3 linked regions of the Homo sapiens genome follow. The protein of the gene in region 3 interacts with the protein of the main gene of each other region in a biochemical or structural test. Each region holds a gene or a part of one and is shown on either strand. Other genes may lie near its edges.

What was found. The genes of interacting proteins can lie anywhere in the genome.
Region 1: the proteins of GOLPH3L (region 3) and TPST2 form a complex in vitro, tested with the Homo sapiens proteins (one study listed by BioGRID).
Region 2: the proteins of GOLPH3L (region 3) and DIPK2A form a complex in vitro, tested with the Homo sapiens proteins (one study listed by BioGRID).

Annotation. Positions count from the first base shown.
Region 1 is NC_000022.11:26,538,113-26,545,147, reverse strand, and holds part of TPST2 (protein-tyrosine sulfotransferase 2), read left to right. Parts: intron 1-472; coding exon of another isoform or gene 473-544; intron 545-3,429; coding exon of another isoform or gene 3,430-3,517; coding exon 3,518-4,359; intron 4,360-7,035. UniProt on the Homo sapiens protein: Catalyzes the O-sulfation of tyrosine residues within acidic motifs of polypeptides, using 3'-phosphoadenylyl sulfate (PAPS) as cosubstrate.
Region 2 is NC_000003.12:143,967,344-143,974,842, forward strand, and holds the start of DIPK2A (divergent protein kinase domain 2A isoform a precursor), read left to right. Parts: upstream 1-4,479; 5' UTR 4,480-4,989; coding exon 4,990-5,646; intron 5,647-5,737; exon of another isoform or gene 5,738-6,189; coding exon of another isoform or gene 6,190-6,219; intron 6,220-7,499. UniProt on the Homo sapiens protein: May play a role in cardiomyocyte proliferation through paracrine signaling and activation of the PPI3K-AKT-CDK7 signaling cascade.
Region 3 is NC_000001.11:150,659,153-150,666,187, reverse strand, and holds part of GOLPH3L (Golgi phosphoprotein 3-like), read left to right. Parts: intron 1-2,424; coding exon 2,425-2,556; intron 2,557-4,259; coding exon 4,260-4,374; intron 4,375-7,035. UniProt on the Homo sapiens protein: Phosphatidylinositol-4-phosphate-binding protein that may antagonize the action of GOLPH3 which is required for the process of vesicle budding at the Golgi and anterograde transport to the plasma membrane.

The DNA of each region.
Region 1 (7,035 bases), on a different chromosome or scaffold from region 3:
AGCATATTCCTTGTAGGCTGGGCCTGTGGTACCATTTGGAATTGTGCAGTCCACAACCTGATCAACCATACCCAGCCATCTCAGGTGGCAATAGTGGTGTGTAGTGGTGGTTGTTGTTGCTTATTGTTATATTTACTTTTCCTGGAGTCCAAGGTCCCTAGGCCAAGAGGAGGGGAGAGGCCTGGTTGGCATAAACCAGGGGCTCCCTAAGGCAGCGGCGCCTTAGCTCAGACTTCAGCTCACACCTCTCTGCCTAAGAAGTGAGCCAGTTCATTCCCTGTAGGAGTAGATAAGTTGAGACTCCAGCTGTGGTATCTTGAGCTGAAGCAGCCTCCCCTGCATTCCAGAGTCCTTCTCCCAAATGTCACTGTCCAGTGCTCTTGGGAGCCTAAACCCTCACTCTGCCTCTTTGAAGGCTTGGCCCCTCTCCACAGTGCCCATCCCTGATGCAATATCTCCTTTGCCTCTCCAGGGCTCTGCCAGCAGACAGCCTTGGCACACAGGCACAAGGGCTGGAGCCCAGAGATGAGAGTGCCCAAGGGAGGTAAGTGCACCTAGAAGGAACTTCCCCTGGAGTCCTGGCCCCTCCTGAGACCGCCCTCCAAAAGTCCCCTCCATGCCCCCAGCCTCCATGATTGGGTGCCTGGGCAAACTCCCCTGGCTGGTTTTCACCTTTCTGTTCAGCCAGCAGGTTGGAAATCTGGTACTAGAAAAAGCTGCATCCCAGCAAGCATCATAGAGAGATGAGCATCTTCCTTGTCTATTAGGAAGACGATTCTCCAGGTGATAGGAGAGAGAAGGCTGAGTCCCAAAGTGGGCGGGGGACTTGCCCAGTGTCACGGAGCAGATTCAAGCCAGAACCCAAACGCTGTTGTGTCCCGTTCTCCTAATGTTAGTGTTTTAGGTATGCTTTCTCAGTACCCCACAGGAGTTCCTTGGCCTTCTGAATAGCTTCCTTGAGAAAAGGGTATTATTATTCCTTTTTTGGAGAAGAAAGTAGAAGCTCAGAGAAGTGATACCTTTTGTCCAGATCACCAGCTGGCAAGTGGCAGCAGAAGTGAGATTTGAACCTTGGAGTGTAGTACTCCAAGTTAGAAGCCCTCACCTATCATCCTCACTGCGAGGATGCCAGGATACCTCCCTTGCCAGGGTCCAGCAGGGTGATGAGGGTGTTGGGCAGGCCTAGTTCCCTGGGCTGGGCCCTCTAGCTCCTTCCACAGTGGGGTCCCTAGCTCTGGGTAACCAGGAAGCTACTTTCTGCTTTGTGGGTTCCAGGCTGCTTTCTGTGTCCCAAGTCACCCTGCTTTTTCTTCTTAAGCCATCGTGCAGGTCATTGCTGTCTTCTGCTCACTTCTGACTTGCCTGCTTTGAGCTGTTTTCTTCAGCCTTGGCCTGGTCTGATCCAGGATTCCTGCCCTGGCCATGCAACCTTGGGCAAGCTGCTTCATCTCTTTGAGCTTAGATACTGCAGGGAAAATGCTTTAGCAGAGTTTATGCTCCATAATTTCGAACACCTTTGCTGAACATAAAATGCTGAAGCTGGCCGGGTGCGGTGGCTCACACCTGTAATCCCAGCACTTTGGGAGGCTGAGGCGGGCAGATCACCTTAGGTCAGGAGTTCGAGACCAGCCTGGCTAACATGGTGAAACCCCATCTCTACTAAAAACACACAAAAAAATCAGCCAAGGTGGGGATGCTGTCACTGAAATCCTAATAACTGACAGGATTCTGGTCACAGGTCTCAGGGGAGAATTTCACTGAGCACCTGATGAAGACAAAGGGTCGTTGCAGGGATTTCGGAATGGCTTCATGTCCTGTTCAGCCTGCCTCCCCGCAGGAAGTAGCTCTGAATTAGCTTTCTCCATCACAGACCCTGAATCGAGGGTACAAATGAAGCCCCAACCTCTTCAGCAGAACTTCATCAGCACGTTTTTCTGAAGAGAGGGAAATTATCCAATGCACAGAGAGGCCGGTGACCCCAGCCTGAGATCCATCTCTGGTTTGTCAGCTGCTTCTCATATTTTCACAGCAGCCTCTGAGGTCAGTGGATCCACCCTGATTTTGCAGCTGAAGAGACTGTGGCTAAGATGAGGGAAGTGACTCTCCCAAGCCACATGGCCAGGAAGTCCTAGCCTCTTAGCAGTTTCCACCCCAGGCCTGAGACTGTGTTCCCTCCGCTTTGATGTTTATTTTCCACTTGCTATAGCCTAAGAAGGCCCAGGCAGCCCAAGCCCTTGCAGGTGGATAGGCCCAGCTGCAGACTGGGCCCTTGGGTGGTTTTGGGTGGAACCTCACATCCAAAGAGGCATGCTGTCTTCCCACTGGCTTCCACCAAACCCTCCGTTCACTAAGTCACTTGCAGTTCCCCAGTCGTGCTGCATCCTTTCCTGCCTGTGGCTCTGCGCTGGCTATTCCCTTTGCTGGTAACATCCTTGTTTCCCTTCTCCACCTGCCTGTTTCCTACCCACCACTGAAAATTCTGCATGAAGGCTACCTCCTGCAGGAGGCCTTCCCTCACCTACGCAGGTAGAACCCATCAATCTCTCTCAGGCACAGGTCCATGGTAAGAGTAGACTTTGGAGGCTGAGGCTCCCAGCACATAGCAGGTGCTCATTAAATGTTGGAATAAGTAAATAACCAATGATTATGATAGAAATCACTAATATTCTTGGGCCAGATGGGGTAACTCATGCCTGTAATCCCATCATTTTGGGAGGCTGAGGCGGGAGGATCACTTGAAGCGAGACCCTGTTTCTAAAAATTAGCCAGGTGCGGTGGTGTGTGCCTGTAGTCCCAGGTACTTGGGAGGCTGAGGCAGAGGATTGCTTGAGCCCAGGAGTCCGAGGCCGCAGTGAGCTATGATCTCTCACCACTCAATGCACTCCAGCCTTTTTTTTTTTTTTTTTTAGACGGAGTCTCGCTCTGTCGCCCACGCTGGAGTGCAGTGGCGCAGTCTAGGCTCACTGCAAGCTCTGCCTCCCAGGTTCACGCCATTCTCCTGCCGCAGCCTCCCGAGTAGCTGGGACTACAGGCGCCCGCCACCATGCCCAGCTAATTTTTTGTATTTTAGTAGAGATGGGATATCACCGTGTTAGCCAGGATGGTCTCGATCTCCTGACCTCATGATCCGCTGGACCGGGTGGCTCATGCCTGTAATCCCATCACTTTGGGAGACAGGTAGGAGGATCACCCAGGCCCACGAGTTCAAGAGCAGCCTGGGAAACATGGTGAGACCCCATCTCTTTAAAAAAACAAAAAAAATTGAAAAAAGTGCCCAGCAGGGTGCCAGGCACACAGCTAGTGCTTATGAAAGGTGCCCTCTGCATTCATGTCAGCAGCCTCTTGTTTGCAGTTATAGGGCTTTGCAGTTATTGGAGAGCTCACAGCTCACAGACCTCCCTGACTATGCATGTCCCCCTCTCTCCCCAGATGTGAGCCTGGCGGGCTGCCCGCTAACCTGTCGCTGAAGCCCCAGAAGCGGGCCCTCAGGCCAGGCCTACCCTGCCTCCGGCCCAGCATGCGCCTGTCGGTGCGGAGGGTGCTGCTGGCAGCCGGCTGCGCCCTGGTCCTGGTGCTGGCGGTTCAGCTGGGACAGCAGGTGCTAGAGTGCCGGGCGGTGCTGGCGGGCCTGCGGAGCCCCCGGGGGGCCATGCGGCCTGAGCAGGAGGAGCTGGTGATGGTGGGCACCAACCACGTGGAATACCGCTATGGCAAGGCCATGCCGCTCATCTTCGTGGGTGGCGTGCCTCGCAGTGGCACCACGTTGATGCGCGCCATGCTGGACGCGCACCCCGAGGTGCGCTGCGGCGAGGAGACCCGCATCATCCCGCGCGTGCTGGCCATGCGCCAGGCCTGGTCCAAGTCTGGCCGTGAGAAGCTGCGGCTGGATGAGGCGGGGGTGACGGATGAGGTGCTGGACGCCGCCATGCAGGCCTTCATCCTGGAGGTGATTGCCAAGCACGGAGAGCCGGCCCGCGTGCTCTGCAACAAGGACCCATTTACGCTCAAGTCCTCGGTCTACCTGTCGCGCCTGTTCCCCAACTCCAAGTTCCTGCTGATGGTGCGGGACGGCCGGGCCTCCGTGCACTCCATGATCACGCGCAAAGTCACCATTGCGGGCTTTGACCTCAGCAGCTACCGTGACTGCCTCACCAAGTGGAACAAGGCCATCGAGGTGATGTACGCCCAGTGCATGGAGGTAGGCAAGGAGAAGTGCCTGCCTGTGTACTACGAGCAGCTGGTGCTGCACCCCAGGCGCTCACTCAAGCTCATCCTCGACTTCCTCGGCATCGCCTGGAGCGACGCTGTCCTCCACCATGAAGACCTCATTGGCAAGCCCGGTGGTGTCTCCCTGTCCAAGTGAGTGGAGCCCCTGATGCTTCCACTCAGACTCTGGCCCTGGAGTCAGAGGCGCCAGGCAAGAAAATCAGCACTGCCTTTCTTGAGCTGTGTGGCCTTGGGCAAGTCACTATATCTCTCTGAGCCTCCGTTTCATTATCCCAAAAAATGACAACAATTACTCCTCTCCTTTCTGAGAGAATCTGCAAACTTCGTGGGCTGTTTGTTTGTTTTTTGAGGCAGTGTCTCGGTCTGTTGCCCGGCTGGAGTAACAGCCGCCACCTCCCTGTTCAAGTGATCCTCCCACCTCATCTTCCTGAGTAGCTGGGACTATAGGCATGCGCCACCAAGCTGGGCTAATTTTTGTATTTTTGGTAGAGATGGGGTTTGCCCTGTTGCCCAGGCTGGTCTCAAACTCCTGGCCTCAAGCAGTTCTTCCACCTCAGCCTCCCAGAGTCCTGGGATTACAGGCATGAGCCACCACACCCAGCCTAGAATCTGCAAACTTTGAATATGCTTTGTAGTAAGGCAATAGTGGGTAAAGGTTAAGAGCACAGATTCCAGAACAAGGATGTCTGGGTTCAAACCTCAGCTCTGCCACTTCTTAGCTGTGTGACCCTGGGCAAAGCGACTCAACCCCTGTGCTTCCATTGCTTCATCTGTAACATGGAAATATAATTTGCCTACCTTATAGATACCTGTGGGCATCAAATAGGTTAATAAATGTTAGGTGCTATTATTACTATTTTAGTGTTGATACTGCTTTTATTGATGGAGTACCCATCCTCACCATTGTCATTTAATGAGTGCCTACTGTATGGCAAGTATTGGGTTAAGCCCCCAACAAGTTTATCTCCTTTAATCCTCACAGCAACCTGAGGACATAGGAACACCTCTTATCCACATTTTATAGACCAAAAAACTGAATCTCACAGAGGAGAAGTTACTGGCCTCAGGCTACACAGCTAACAAAGCATGGTGCTGGGATTGGAACCCAGGTCTGTTTTTTGGGGTTTTTCTTGTTTTTGTTTTTGTTTTTTTGAGACAGGGTTTCACTCTGTTGCCCAGGCTGGAGTGCAGTGGCACGATCCCAGCTAACTGCAGCCTCGACCTCTTGGGCTCAAGCAATTCTCCCACCTCAGTCTCCCGAGTAGTTGGGACTACAGGCGAGCATCTCCACACCCAGCTCATTTTTTTTTTTTTTTTCCTAGTAGAGATGAGATCTCAGTATGTCTTCCAGGCTGGTCTCCAACCCCTGAGCTCAAGCCTTCCTCCTGCCTTGGCCTCCCAAAGTGCTGGGATTACAGGCCCCTGGCCTATTGTGTTCTTAAACTCCCCATGTCCAGAACTCCTCCCATCCTCCCCTTCACTCCCCCTCATCCTTTCCTTTCCTTCCTCCCTCTGTCCCTTGCTCCCTGCCTTCTTCCATTGGAAAAGCTGCTGTCCCTATCCTGAGACCCAGAGCACTTTGAACAATGCTGGAGCAGAATATGCAGTTTCCACGCTTTCCCATCCTGATCAGGCTCTGGATAGCCTGAGAGCTCAGTGAAAGGGTGGTCCTTCCCATGGCTGGTCCTTCCCATGGCTGGTCCCTGCTGGGCCCCTTCCCAGGCCCAGAGCAGAGCTAGAGGCTCGCAGCTGCTCTCCGCTAGCAACAAAGTTCCTACATGCCGGGTACCCCAGCCAGTTGGTGCTGGAGCTAGGATTTTATAAATTATTATGACAAAAATATTAGATTACCAAAGTAATACATCTTGACTATAGAAAATTAGAAAAGATACACCAAAGAAGAACGGAGAAACAACCCATGATCTCACCACCCAGATCTTGATGTGTGGCCTACTGCACCATTTTCAGGGCCTGTTGATGAAACTGGAGTCCAACGAAACATACTCCTCTGTAGCCTTTTTCCACGGTGGTGTGGGAGCCCTTGCCAGTGGCAGCCAGCACTCTTTGGTAGCAGCATTTTTGTTGTTGTTTTGTTGTTGAGACGGAGTCTCGCTCTGTCACCCAGGCTGGAGTGTAGTGGTGTGATCTCGGCTCACTGCAACCTCCGCCTCCCGGGTTCAAGCAGTTCTCCCTGCCTCAGCCTCCCAAATAGCTGGGATTACAGGCACCCGCCACCACGCTCTGCTAATTTTTATATTTTTAGTAGAGATGGGGTTTTGCCATGTTGGCCAGGCTGGTCTCGAACTCGTGACCTCAGGTGATCTGCCCGCCTCAGCCTCCCCAAGTGCTGGGATTACAGGCATGAGCCACCGCGCCTGACCTGCAGCATCATTTTGAATAGCTGTGCGACAGGCTGCTACACGGATTGCCATATTCGACTTCACATTCCCTATTGTTGGACACTTCGGTTATTTCCAGTTTTACTGATATGTATCAAGCATTGCCCTCATTCATGTTCTGGGATGTGTCCACCTCATTTCTGCACCATAAAGTCCTAGAGACACAAGGATTTTGGCAAAAGCCATGCACATACTCAAGATTTTTGACATATTGGGTAGAGTTAAGATTTAAATCCAGGTTTGCAGCCTCTGAATCTGTGTTCTACCCACCAGTCCACACCCTTTCACCTTCCCCTGTTCTCCTCACCTCACGCCCGGTCTTGTCTTCCTTTTGCTGCCTCTTTCTGTTCTTTCCCAAGTCACCTCTTAGTTGGGATGAAAACATTTAGAACTAGGCCCTTGATCCTGG
Region 2 (7,499 bases), on a different chromosome or scaffold from region 3:
GATCTGAATGGTTGTGTCAGTTGCACCCCCACCCCCTTGTGCCATAATTCATATGTTGAGCCCTAATCCTCAATGTGATGGTATCTGGAGGTGGGTCCTTTGGGAGGTGACTTGTATTCTTATAAAAGAGACCCCAGAGTGATTCCCTTGTCCCTTCTGCCATGCGAAGACACAGCAGAAACATTTATGAATGAGGAAAACACCCAACACAAAATTTGCAAGCACTTTGATCATGGACTTGCCCCCAAAACTGTGAGAAAGAAATTTCTGTTGTTTATAAGCCACTAGTCTAAGATATTTTTGTTCCAGCAGCCCCAAAGGGCTTAGACAAATGGTAATTCTTACAATAGTTTAAGACAAAAACCATGCCATAATACCTGATGCTTGCCTTTCTCTCACATTAAAATCTTGAGTAAACTTTGTTAGCTCTACGTTCACAATATATCCAGAATGTGCTAGCTTTTTTTTTTTTTTTTTTTTAACCAGCTAATACCCATCATTTCTAGTTTGGATTATTACAATAATACTGAAAGTGTTTATTCCTTCAATTGTTAATCCACCTACTACTGGAACAAACCACTTAAACCAGACACTGTTCTGGGTTCTTTAGTATACAGGAAATTATCTTTTTGGACTTTACAAAACGAATACCTCTTATCCACCCTGAATCTTACTATAGTGCACTGTCTCAGGACATGACTGCCAGAGCACTGAATATAGTCAATATGATAAAATAATTCTAATACCCAAGTAAAAAAATCATTTTCCAGGATGGGCTTCCAATGCTTTGCTTCTAAATCCAACTAACTTGGAAAACCTAATTGGTATGTCATTCAGAATATTCTGATGATAGATCACTATCGGTAAATGATTCTAGTCAAAAGGAATAAAAAGAAATGAATGAAATTGCTATATAAACATTCTTTTTATTTTTAAACATAAATGAAGATGTTTTGGCCCTTACATCTCTAAAAGCGAAGAAGAGAGAAAACTGATGTTAGACTTCGTCTGATTCTAGCAATAAATAATATTTGTTCATGGAAACCTAATTTTAAAAAAATGCCCAAGCTAATTAAGAAATACATTTCAATAAAATGTTACTTTTTATATTTATTCAAATTGGGATATTTGTTATTTTGATCAGCTGAACACTAATTATAGTTGTAATCATACAAAAAATTCCTATGTTAGCATTTAGGAGATTATGATCACAGGATATACACAAAATTTAAATACAGTTGTCTGTTGGTATATACCTGGGATTGGTTCCAGGACCCCCGGTATACCAAAATCCTCTCATACACAAGTTCTGCAGCTAGTCCTGCAGAACCTGCTTACAGTAAAAGTCAGCTGTCCTTGGGTTTCATATACAGCATATACTATATTTTTGATCCTCATTTGGTTGAAAAAAATCTATGTATGAGTACAATTCAAACCTGTGTTGTTCAAGGGACAACGGTATACACATATTTTTTGCTGCAGGAAAGGATAACCAATAAGGCTTATGCCTAAAACCGTACTATATAGAATTCTTGTTAGTCAGGGTTTCTCAACAGCACACTATTGAGATGTTGAGTGGGTTAATTTCTTGTTGTTGGGGGTTGTCTTTTGCAATGTAGGATATTTTGCAGCATCCTTGGCATGTTCCCACTAGACAACAGTAGTACCCCACTCCCTAGTTTATGAAATCAAAAATGTCTCCAGACATTGCCAACTGGCCCCTGGGAGGCAACAGTCCCTTGCTGAGAACCACTGCAGTAGAGAATAGAATAGTAATACAATGTAAAACTTTGACTATCAAAATGGATGTTAGTATCAAACTACTATGGTATTTAATTCCATCTGATAATATTTAAAACAGTGATAGTTACTGTAAAATGACATTTTACAATGCACTGGAAATTACATTATTTGCCATTACTTAAAATAATGGTCAAGAACTTTAAATGATCCACTGGTTGAAAGCATCCTGTAGTTTATAGGAAAGGTGAGTAATGCACATTAACCTTCACTTAGAGTTTTTTTTTTTGGAAACGGAGTTTTTGCTCTGTCGCCAAGGCTGGAGTGCAGTGGCGCCATCTCGGCTCACTGCAGCCTCCGCTTCCTGGGTTCAAGCAATTCTCCAGCCTCAGCCTCCCGAGTAGGTGGGACTACAGGCGTGCGCCGCCATGCCTGGCTAATTTTTGTATTTTTAGTAGAGACAGGGTTTCACCGTGTTGGCCAGGATGGTCTTGATCTCCTGACCTCGTGATCCGCCTGCCTCGGCCTCCCAAAGTGCTGGGATTACGGGGGTGAGCCACCGTGCCTGGCCCCAATTAAGAGATATTTTGCAAACCTTAATATGGCACTTTGGAACACTATATGTTTATCTTGTATAGTTCTAAGACTTTTTTCCTTTTGATGAATGTATTAAGTTCTTGAAAACTATCTCTCCTGATAAACATCTAGAAAATTTAACTGAAAAGATCAGAGCTTTTAAACAAATGTAAACTACTTAGATGCAGAGCAAATGTTTTTCAAAATTCAAATTGTGTAGACTAGTAACCGTGTTTTATTTCCATGTTTCAAATGATGCCTATACAATTCCAAGCATCTGGAGGCTGAGAATAGTTTAAGAACTCCAAAGACCTATTCGATACAAAGAAGCAGTACAGGTACCTCCTTAATCCTGTTACTAGTTACCTAAATAGTCTCACTATGCCCCGGTTCTCTCAGCTTAATCAGTTTAATGGCAACTTATGTAGTACTTTTATTGTTTTAAACCAATTCTAAATAGATTGTCTACTATTAATCGAACAAATTTATGAGGCATATAGAAAAGATGTCAGAAAGAAGAAATTTGTAGTTAAGTAATAACTTGCTTTGTTTACAATTCAGCAGCAGCAGCAGCCTCACAGCTGAACTACAGCACAGGTCTCCAGAACCATCACACCAAACTCCTTTTCCTAAGAAAATCTCACTTGAGCTTTTAACTCTATATTATATGGAGTTTGGGGATATTTGAAAGCAAGTTAAATAAAATTCCCACCAAAGGCGGCATAAGGCACTAGGCAGAAGTAGCCAAACTTAAGTACAGTAAGTCAATTTCTAGAAAGCTTTGAATATTATTTCAATTTGTCTGTCCGTATTCAATGCAAATCGTTACAAAATCACGTCTATTTTGAATTTATTAAATTTCTCAAAGTTTTTTTTTCAAAATCTGAGTTCTTATAAGAATTTGTAACAAATACCTGTTACAATTAAACAATACTGAAAGTATTGTTACTTTTGATAACCTGGTATAGATGTTTCTTATTAACCCGCTGTAGAGTTGATCTACACATGCCAGTTACCATGGTCTTCTAAAAGCACTGTTCAAGCCCTAAAATTAACTCAGTTAAGACTCAGTTGTTTAATAACGTATCAGGAACCACCTGTCCCTCAGACTAAAAATCACTTCTCATTTTAACTACTCTAGCACTAAAAGTGAATAGCATAATAATGTATCTACTAGCGCTACTGCTAAACAGTCCGGGTCCCCTGAAACTTATCCCTAAACACAGTGCTTTCGTGCGGCATCTGCGCCTTACTTTTGCAGTCTGGGGTGACTGAGTCAACGTGACCGTGCGGAGCACCAAGCAGCCCCGGGTCCCCATGGCTACCGCCAGGGCAACGCTTCGCGGCCCGCTCCTCAGGGACCCTCAGGGGCGGCACCGGGAAATCAGCTTTGCGGAGAGGAACCGCAGGGCTCCGGGGACGGGCTAGGGCAGCCGGCGGGCAGCAGAGGCAAGCCTGGCAAACTCTTCCCGGCTTCTTCGCGGCGCTTGGGGCAGACGTCCTGGCGACACCAGGCCGCGTCGGTTCCCCTTCATCCTATTTTCCCTTTAACACGGTGGCTTGAGAACTTTATTTTGTGCTCACTCAAGAAAATTTTAAATGATTTTACAGATACAACCCCAAAGATGAAGCTCCAACAAACCCGCCACTACTCGAGCCTTTCTCACCGTCTTCCTCACAGGCCCCACCCCCTACCGCGAGGAGCACGAGCTGAGGGGAACACAAGCCCCCGTCGGGCACTCCCCGGCCTCGCCCCACCCCCCAGGCGCGCACCCAACCCATATAAGGCGAGGGGAGGCAATCGCGCCAGCTCTGCCTCCGCCTCGCGCGCCGTCCAGAGGGAAGGATTTGCAATAGACTTCCTCAGTTCATTTCTTCTTATTCCCTCCTCCCTTAAAGGGCCGTTTCCACAATAGTGAAAGGAACGCACCAGTAAACCACAATAATCATAAAAGATGACTGTAATTAAGACTCTTTCTGAAACCAGAAACCGCGAGTTCATGCCCCCACCTCAAGAGCCCGAGCTTCCCCCTCTCTGAACCGCCCCCACACCCGCTCCCGCGAGCTCCCGCTTACGCTTTCCGGGCGGCGCGCGACGCGCTCGCTCCGCCCCTCTGGCCCCGCCCCCGGCTCCCCTTCTTGGTCTCAGGAGAGCCAGCGCGCACAAGCAAGGGTGTGCGGCTCTGAGACGTGCGTTGCTGCTTGTGGGTGTGAGACATCCTAGCTCCTCTTCCCCTTCCGTGAGTCCCTCCTTTCCTCGCAGACCCCACTTGTCGTGGCTGGCTGCCGCCGCAGCTCTTGTGCGAAGCCAGCAGTGCGCGTGCGCGCGGGCACGGGCGCGCGACCGTCGGGTCCCCGCGCTCCCTCCCCCTCCCGCTCCTCTATAACTTGGCTGGCGTGGAGGAGGCGCCGCCGGAGTCGGAGGGCGGGGAGCTAGGAGGAGGGAGCTCGAGAGTTGTGGAGACTAGTGACTGGGAGAAGTCGCAGCCCGCTCAGGCCCGCGCCTTCCCGCTCCCCGTCTTCCTCTCTCACACACCTACTCCGCCCTCCGCCCCAGCCCGCGCGCTAGCTCCTTCTCTCGCCCGGGGTTCCTGCCGGTAGCTCTCCGGGTCTTGGCGCGGCGGGGGCGCCCCGGGGGTGCCCTCGCCCTCCCGTTGCGGGCGGGCGGGCGGTATGTGGCGCCTGGTGCCCCCGAAGCTGGGCCGCCTGTCCCGCTCGCTGAAGCTGGCGGCGCTGGGCAGCCTGTTGGTGCTGATGGTGCTGCACTCGCCGTCGCTGCTCGCCTCTTGGCAGCGCAACGAACTGACCGACCGGCGCTTCCTGCAGCTCAATAAGTGCCCGGCGTGCTTCGGCACGAGCTGGTGCCGCCGCTTCCTCAACGGGCAGGTGGTATTCGAGGCGTGGGGCCGCTTGCGCCTGCTGGACTTCCTCAACGTGAAGAACGTGTACTTCGCGCAGTACGGCGAGCCCCGCGAGGGCGGCCGCCGCCGAGTGGTGCTCAAGCGCCTCGGCTCGCAGCGCGAGCTGGCGCAGCTCGACCAGAGCATCTGCAAGCGGGCCACCGGCCGGCCCCGCTGCGACCTGCTGCAGGCCATGCCCCGGACCGAGTTCGCGCGCCTCAACGGCGACGTGCGTCTGCTCACGCCCGAGGCGGTGGAGGGCTGGTCGGACCTGGTGCACTGCCCCTCGCAGCGCCTTCTCGACCGCCTGGTGCGCCGCTACGCGGAGACCAAGGACTCGGGCAGCTTCCTGCTTCGCAACCTCAAGGACTCGGAGCGCATGCAGCTGCTGCTGACCCTGGCCTTCAACCCCGAGCCGCTGGTGCTACAGGTAGGCGCGGAGCCAGGGCAGGGGGCGTCCTGGGAGGGGCCGCGCGTGGGAATCAGAGTCGGGAGAAGTGGCTCAGCCAGCGCTTGCCGCCAGTTCGGACTCGGCCGGGCTGGGCCAGGCTGCAGGCGTGGGAAGGGGCGTCTCCGGGGGAGCCCCGGGGCTGTGCAGGGAGGCCGAGGGCGACCCCGCTGATGGAGAGTCTGCTCTTGTTACCTAGATTCGGGCGCATTTCGGATTTGACTGTGGATCTTTCAACGCCAGAGGGAGTGCGTCTCTTAACACTCCCCAAAATGTCTCTACTGCGAGTTTCCTTCCGCTCTCTACCCTGCCTTTCTGCTTTTATCTGCCGGGGCTTGCAGGTCCGCGGCGCAGACTGTTCACGAGCCCTTGGACCTTTCCTAGTTCTTCTGAAGTGTTCTACACCGCGTTCGCTCTTCCTTTTCTGGCGCTGGTGGCTGGCCTAACTTCGGTCTCAGAGTCTTTGTTTTCGCTCATTTACCTGGCAGTCATTTGGACACCTAATTCGAGGACAAGTTGGGGAGGATGAAGTCGGAGAACGGGACAGTGGTCGGGGTGGGTTTAATCTGTGAGCCGAGCTTTGGGTGGGATTAGAATCAGAAACAGGAAAAGTAAGGCAGCGTTGGACTTGGGGCTGGGAGGGCTTAAGGCCAGACAGACGTTTTCATCCTGATCCTGTGACCTGCCCTATTCATCTGGTAATCTAGTTGAAGGGAGATGAAATATTAGGCCAGGGCGAGTATCAGGGAAGGAGATTCTTGCCTTTCGCCAGTTGCGTTGTTTGCTCTCGTCTGACTGTTTTGAAAAGTAATGTGCCTTTTAGGGGAATAGGATGGAATCTTTACTGGTGACATCAAAAAGAGAACAAAAAACAAAAACACTGTTTACTTTCGGAGTATTTGCTTGTTTCTGCACATTCCCACCCAGCTTCAGTGCGGTGTCCTTGAACAGTGATTACAACTGTGGGGTTGTGGTTTCTCCTTCTGTCTGCAGGAAAAGTTACCGTGCTCCTTTCCATGACAAGAGAAAAAAATGACTTAAAAGTTCACAAGTAATTTTGGTATACTTCACATTCTTTCTGGGTTGCTGTCACTGAGGGCTGGAGGTACAGGGTTTTTTTTTTTTTTATTTTTCTAAAATGCATGAATAGGAAAGTGCAGATTTCTTTATATTATTTTCTTTTCTCAAGCTCTACACTGCCCATTTTAGCTTTAAAAGAAACCAGCTTCGTTTGATTAGTTCAGCCAAATAATGTAACACAAATATTTGGCTTCAGATGAAACTTTAGTGTGGGTCTTAGTAAATTTTAGGACATCAGAGGCTATGTGTATTGGGTTAATTTTAAAGTCAGAGTGTGTTTTAAATACTGCTGTATCACCTAACTGAATGGATGCATAAAACTGGTTAAACTTTCCTTGAAGAAATTTTCTTTATTCAGTAGTTCCCAAACTAGTCAGTCTCTAAAGGTTTAGCCTGTATTTATGATGTACATACACTTGAACTGAAGTTTCTCATTAAGCTATCTTTAAAAGAGAACCTTGTTTGTATTAGCAAGGTTGGTTCTTGGAGATCGTGTTAGCATTTTGCTGAAGTAGATACCCGGACAAATTCTCTGAGACCCAGAAATTTAGCAAGGAGCTGTCTTAGTAATATACATTTACTGTACTTAAAATGCTGGCGTCCCTACCGAAAGATTTTTTTTTTTTAGGTAATTTTGAATAGTGATGTATTAGTAACAACTAACAGTAGAATTGATATTTTAAGAACATTATGTGGCCAGTTCTTTTTAAGTGTAGTCATAGCATTGAATTTGAGAAACTTTGGCATCTGATTTA
Region 3 (7,035 bases):
GCTAAGAAATGAAACCACAGTTATGGGAAGCACAACATATACCAAACAGAATAAATAAATTCATGCACAGTCATGTTATAGTAAAACTGCAAAACACCAAAAGAGAAGATCTTAAAGGACCAAAGAAAAGATACACCACCTACAAAAAAACCACAATCAATAAGAAAGATAGATTTCTCACTGCTATATTAGAAGCTGGAAGAAGAGGGCATACTATCTTCAATGTGATAACCTGGAATGATCAACCTGGAATTTTATGTCCAGAGAAACTATCTTTCAAGGATGATGGTGAAATACAAAGACATTTCAGATAAGCAAAATAGAAACTGCCTCCAACAGACTTTCACTTAAGGAAATTCTACTTTAGGAAGAAGAAAAATGGTGCCAGAAAGGAAGTCTGAGATACAGGAAGGAACGGTGAGCAAAGAAATTCGTAAGCACCTGTGTAAATCTAAACAAGTGCTACCTGTATAAAATAATAATGATGATGATGATATCTAATTTATGAGGCTAAAAAAAAATACTGGACAACTAAAAGAGTGGTTAAAATATTAATATTTAAAATTTAGGTTTTATGTTAATTTTAAATTAATGTATCATGCATGTTAAAATTTCAAGGATAACTTCTAAAAGTACATAACTTCCAAGCCAATAAAGAGGAAAATTGAATTAAAAAATTTTTTAAATAGTTATTATAGCTAGGTGCAGTGTCTCATGCCTGTAGTCTGAGCTACTTGGGAGGCTGAGGCAGGACAATTGTTTGAGCCCTGGAGTTCAAGTCTACAGTGAGCTATGATGGCCCCACTGCATTTCAGCCTGGATAATGGAGCAAGACCCCGCCTGTCTCTTAAAAAAAAAAAGTAACCCCAAAATATGCACAACTATGATCTATCAGTAAAACACCACCAAAAAAACAACCACTTAAAAATTTCTCTATTTAGCTTCGTGACCTCTGTTATGCTGTATAACCTCTGTAAGCCTTAGTTTTCTCATCTTTAATGTGTGGGTAGTAGTAGTACTTCCTTTATAGGGTTGTTGTGAAGATATAATCAGATAATGCATGTAAAAAGCTTAGCACAAATCTAGTACATAATAAGTATTAGCACATATCTAGTATATAATAAGTATTCAATAGACATTAGTAATTAAACGTTACTGCTGTTAGACAATACCAGTGGCTCTCTTATACGTATATTCCCTATACAAAGGGAAGGGGAGCTAACATTTTAAGTGCCTGCTATATGCCAGGCACTATACTAAATGCTTTCTTATATATTGTATCTCATGTAACCCTCATAACAATCTTATGAAAATATATATTGGTGTCTGCATTTTATAGATGAGGACAATGTACTTCAGAAAGTTTAAGTAACATAACCAAGGCACTTAATGACAGTGGGTTTCTATTATACCTCCCATCAAAAGAACTTCAAATTGGCTGGGCACGGTGGCTCACTCCTGTATTCCCAGCACTTTGGGAGACTGAGGCTGGTGGATGACGAGGTCAGGAGTTTGAGACCAGCTTGACCAACATAGTGAAATCCCGTCTCTACTAAAAATACAAAAATTAGCTGGGTGTGGCAGTGCACACCTGTAATCCCAGCTACTCAGGAGGCTGAGGCAGGAGAATCGCTTGAACCTGGGAGGCGGAGGTTGCAGTGAGCCAAGATCACGTCACTGCACTCCAGCCTGGGCGACAGAGCAAGCCTCCATCTCAAAAAAAAGAAAAAAGAACTTCAAATTAATACATATCTAGGAGGATTAAAAGCTCAAATGCTTTTTACTTTTTTCTGACTTATTTTACCCCACTCTGAAATTTTGTGTCATGGAAACAGACTTCAAAAAAGCCAAAATTCTCCTCAAAAATTAAAATTTTGCATGTCAAACCAGGTGCAGTCACTCATGTCTGTAATCCCAACACTTTCGGAGGCCAAGGTGGGAGGATAGCTTGAGGCCAGGAGTTCGAGACCAGCGTAGGCAACATAGCAAGACCTTGTCTCTACAAAAAAATTTTTTTTAAAAACAGCCAGGCATGGTGGCACATACCTGTAGTCCCAGCTACTCAGGAGGCTGAGGTGGAAGGATTGCTTGAGCCCAGGAGGTCAAGGCTGCAGTGAGCCATGATCATGCCACTGCATTTCAGCCTGGGGGAAAAAGCGAGACCCTGTCTCAAAAAAAAAAATTGCACATCATTTATTGACTAACAGCAAACCATGGAAATTCACTAAAGATCTTGAAGTCAGACAGAAAATCATATTTGGGGGTGTTTAAGAGGATTAAAGAAACATCCTCTTACTCTATACTTTGAGTTCATGTAGTATGATGTGAAACGAATCACAACAAAGCGGCCTGTTCTTAGGGTGCCTGCTGGAAGTCAGTATTCCTCTCAAAACATTCTTTCTCTTCTCTTTTCTCCTTTCCTAGGGGTACACATCTTTCTGGAATGACTGCATATCATCAGGCCTGCGAGGGGGCATCCTGATAGAGCTGGCCATGCGGGGTCGAATCTATCTGGAACCCCCGACCATGCGTAAGAAGCGACTACTAGACAGAAAGGTACTGAATCCTCTGTGAACGTCCATGGCTTATGGAAAGGCAAATACCAACAGTACATTTGGGAAGAATAGAAAGATTTGAGTAGTAAGATAAAATAAATATCACTGACTCAGCAGTTCCATTGTCTAAACAGGTTAATTACCCTATTGCAAGAGGGAGAAATCAAAGTATCCATAGTCCAAAGAGTTATAGGAAGCTCCTGGTTTTGTCTTCCTTTTTTATGCAGAAAAATCATACTCAGGATGCTGTTGATTAAATTCCTCCTATATCTATAGCTATAACATTATGAAATAGCCGGGCACAGTGGCTCACGCTTGTAATCCCAGCACTTTGAGAGGCCGAGGCGGGCGGATCATGAGGTCAGGCGATTGAGACCATCCTGGCTAACACGGTGAAATCCCATCTCTACGAGAAATATTTAAAAAAAAAATTAGCGGGGCATTGTGGCGGGCGCCTGTAGTCACAGCTACTCGGGAGGCTGAAGCAGGAGAATGGCGTGAACCCGGAAGGTGGAGCTTGCAGTGAGCCAAGATCCCGCCACTGCACTCCAGCCTGGGGGACAGTGCAAGACTCCGTCTCTAAAAAAAAAAAATTACGAAATAGAGTATGATGTAGGGAGAGGGACTCATATGGGTCAGGTCAGTCATTGATTAACCCTGGTTATTCTCCAATAATATTCTGTTTCCTTCCATTTACTGCAAGTCCTTTCCAACCATACTCCTGTATCCATTTTCTTACTGAATTTTTCCACTCACAACTTCTTTATCATCCTAAGCACTCCACTTAAACTACATTCTTAGGTATCACCAGCTTCTTTTCAGTCTTTGATTTATTTTTCTCTTTTAACCTATATGTGTCATTTGACACTTTTTATCACTTTGAAACTTTCTTCATTATTGGCCTTTGTTATTATCTTATTCTCTTGCTTCTCTGACTATACACTGTTTCCTTACTTCTCCATTTCTTAACATCCAAGTCTCAGTTTGTATCACTTGAGTGATCTTCTGTCCTTTCAGAGATATCATTTACCTTTATAGCTTCGTCTGTCACCTTCATGAGATTAATTTTCAAATTTCTAGGCAGGTCTTGTTTTTCCACCTCCAGAAACATATTTAACTATTGGCTAGAAATTTCAACTTGGCTATCCCATATCATTTAAAACCAAACTTAACAAAAATGAAAGAAAACCAAATTATCAACCTTTCCCCAAAACTGACTTCCTTTTCTGACTTTCCTGCCTTTGTTTATTTATTTATTTATTTATTTAAATTTTTATTTTTTTAATAGAGAAAAGATTTTGCCATTTTGCCCAGGCTGGTCTCAAACTCCTGAGCTCAGGTGATCCACCCGCCTCAGCCTCCCAAAGTGCTAAGATTACAGGCATGAGCCACTGAGCCCAGCTGTTTCCTACCTTTATTAATGGTTTCAAAAGTTGGTTTCCAGACTCAAAATGAGTTGTTATTGAAACTTTTCTCCATTATCATTCATATCCAGTTTGTCACTAGGGCCCACTTCAAATGTTATTTTTGTCTTTGCACTATCACTCCATACTATATTTTAAACTTCTTGAGGACAGAGACAGTATATTATGCTTCCTTACATTCTTGCAATTTTTAACCAGTAACATATACATGATATATTGAAAGATTTTAACTTGAATGAAGTGAAGGAATCAGGGTTCCTTCTTTCTCCTTTTCTCAAAGGTACTGCTAAAGTCAGACAGCCCAACAGGTGATGTTTTACTGGATGAAACTCTGAAACACATCAAAGCAACTGAACCCACAGAAACTGTCCAAACATGGATAGAGCTACTCACTGGTAAGATGACTTAAAATAATATATGAATTTCACACTTTGTTATCTTTATCCTACCCTGAAATTTAGTAAAAGATGTACCGAAATTCATCGTGCTGGATGAGATAGATGTGGTTCACTATTTAATTCTAATGAGGGACAGAAAAAGCATGGTTAATTGATACCTAAAGTTTTCCAAAGCTTCACCTTATCTTCTGCCACCCCACCCCAAAAGCCCTTAAATAGTATTCTTCACAAGAAACTTTTAAAACATCTTTATTGAGAGGACAATGAGAATATTGGCATTGATGCAGTCTATTATTCTTATTAGAATTTCCCAGTTTTAATTTGCCAAATAATATTTTATTGCATGGCCATACCACATTTGTTTATCCAGTCATCAGTTGATGAATCTTTGAGTTATTTCCACATTTTGGGTATTGTGAATAATGCTGCTGTGAACACGCACGGACAAGTTTTTGTTTGAACATGTTTTCATTTCTTGTGGGTATGTAGCTAGGAGTAGATAACTGGGTCATATGTAAATCAACGAGTAACATTCTTACTGTGGTAAAATATACATAACATTTATTATTATTATTATTATTTCGAGATGGAGTCTTGCTCTGTCGTCCAGGCTGGAGTACAGTGATGCAATCTCAGCTCACTGCAACCTCTGCCTCCCGGGTTCAAGCAATTCTCCTGCCTCAGCCTCCCAAGTAGCTGGGATTACAGGCACGTGCCACCACGCCTGGCTAATTTTTGTATTCTTAGTAGAGACAGGGTTTCACCATATTGGCCAGGCTTGTCTCGAACTCTTGACTTCGTGATCTGCCCGCCTTGGCCTCCCAAAGTGCTGGGATTACAGGCGTGAGCCACCGCGCCCAGCCAACATTTATTATTATTTTAGCCATTCTTAAGTGTACAATTCTGTGAAATTAAATATATTTGCAATATTTTGTAACCGTCACCTCTATCTATACTATACCCAAAGCTTCCTCATCATTACCCATTAAAACTCTGTACCTATTAAATGATAACTTCCTCTTTCTCTCTCCCCCCAGTCCCTGGCAACCTCTATTCTACTTTCTTTTTCTATGAATTTGCTTACTCTAGGTACCTCATATAAGTAGAATCATACAATATCTGTCATTACTTTCCCTAGCTTATTCACCAAGCATAATGTTTTCAAGGTCCATTCATGTCACAGCATATATCAAAATTTCATTCCTGTTTATGGCTGAGTGATATTCCGTTGTATGTATATAACACTTTCGTTTAACCATTCATCTGTTGATGGACACTTGCCTTGTTTCCACCTTTTGGCTATTGTGAATAATGCTGCTGTGAACATTGATACACAAATATCTGTTCAAGTTCCTGTTTTTAATTCTTTTGGATATATACCTAGGAATAGAATTGCTGGGTCATATAGCAGTTTTATGTTTAACCTTTTGAGAAATCACCAAACATTTCCACAGAGACTGCACCATTTTATATTCCCACCAGTATGCACCAGGGTTCCAATTTGTCCACATGCTGATCACCACTTGTTCTTCTCTTTCTTTTCTTTTTTTTAATTATAGACATCCGAGTAGGCCTAAAATGTTATCTCATTGTGGTTTTGATTTTTATTTTCAAATGAAAATAGTTTTCATGTCATTCCTAATGACTAAAAATATTGAGCATATTTTTATGTGCTTACTGACCATTTATATATCTTCTTTGGAGAAATATAAAATACTTTTCCCATTTTTAAGTTTGATTGTTTTGTTGTTGTTGAGGTTTTTTTGTATTTATTTATGAGATGCGGTCTCACTCTGTCACCCAGGATGGAGTGCCGTGGTGCAATCTCGGCTCACTGCAACCTCTATCTCCCGGGCTCAAGGATCCTCCCACCTCAGCCTCCCAAGTAACTGGGACTATGGGTGCGCACCATCACACCTGGCTAATTTTTTGTGTTTTTGGTGGAGATGGGGTTTTGCTATGTCACCCAGGCTGGTCTCTGAACTCCTGAGCTCAGACAGTCTACCCATCTTGGTCTCCCAAAATGCTGGGATTACAGGCATGAGCCACTGTGCCTGGCCAGAGGTTCTTTATATATATTCTGGATATTAATCTTGCCGAGACCAGCTCAGTTGTGGAGACCCTAACCCAGTGGCGCTAGAGGAATTAAAGACACACACACACAGAAATATAGTGTGGAGTGGGAAATCAGGGGTCTCACAGCCTTCAGAGCTGAGAGCCTTGAACAGAGATTTACCCACATATTTATTGACAGCAAGCCAATCATAAGGTTTACTAAAAGTATTCCTTATGGGAAATAAAGGGATGGGCCGAAATAAAGGGACGGGCTCTGGCTAGTTATCTGCAGCATGAACATGTCCTTAAGGCACGGATCTCTCATGCTATTGTTTGTGGTTTAAGAACACCTTAAGCAGTTTTCCGCCCTGGGTGGGCCAGGTGTTCCTTGCCCTCATTCCAGTAAACCCACAACCTTCCAGCATGGGCATCAAGGCCATCACAAGCATGTCACAGTGCTGCAGAGATTTTGTTTATGGCCAGTTTTGGGGCCAGTTTATGGCCAGATTTTTGAGGCCTATTCCCAACACGTCCCCCTTCTTTGTTTTACAAAGCAATAAAAGCAAAGGCAGCTTTGTCAAGGTGAGCTACTTCTCACAGAAG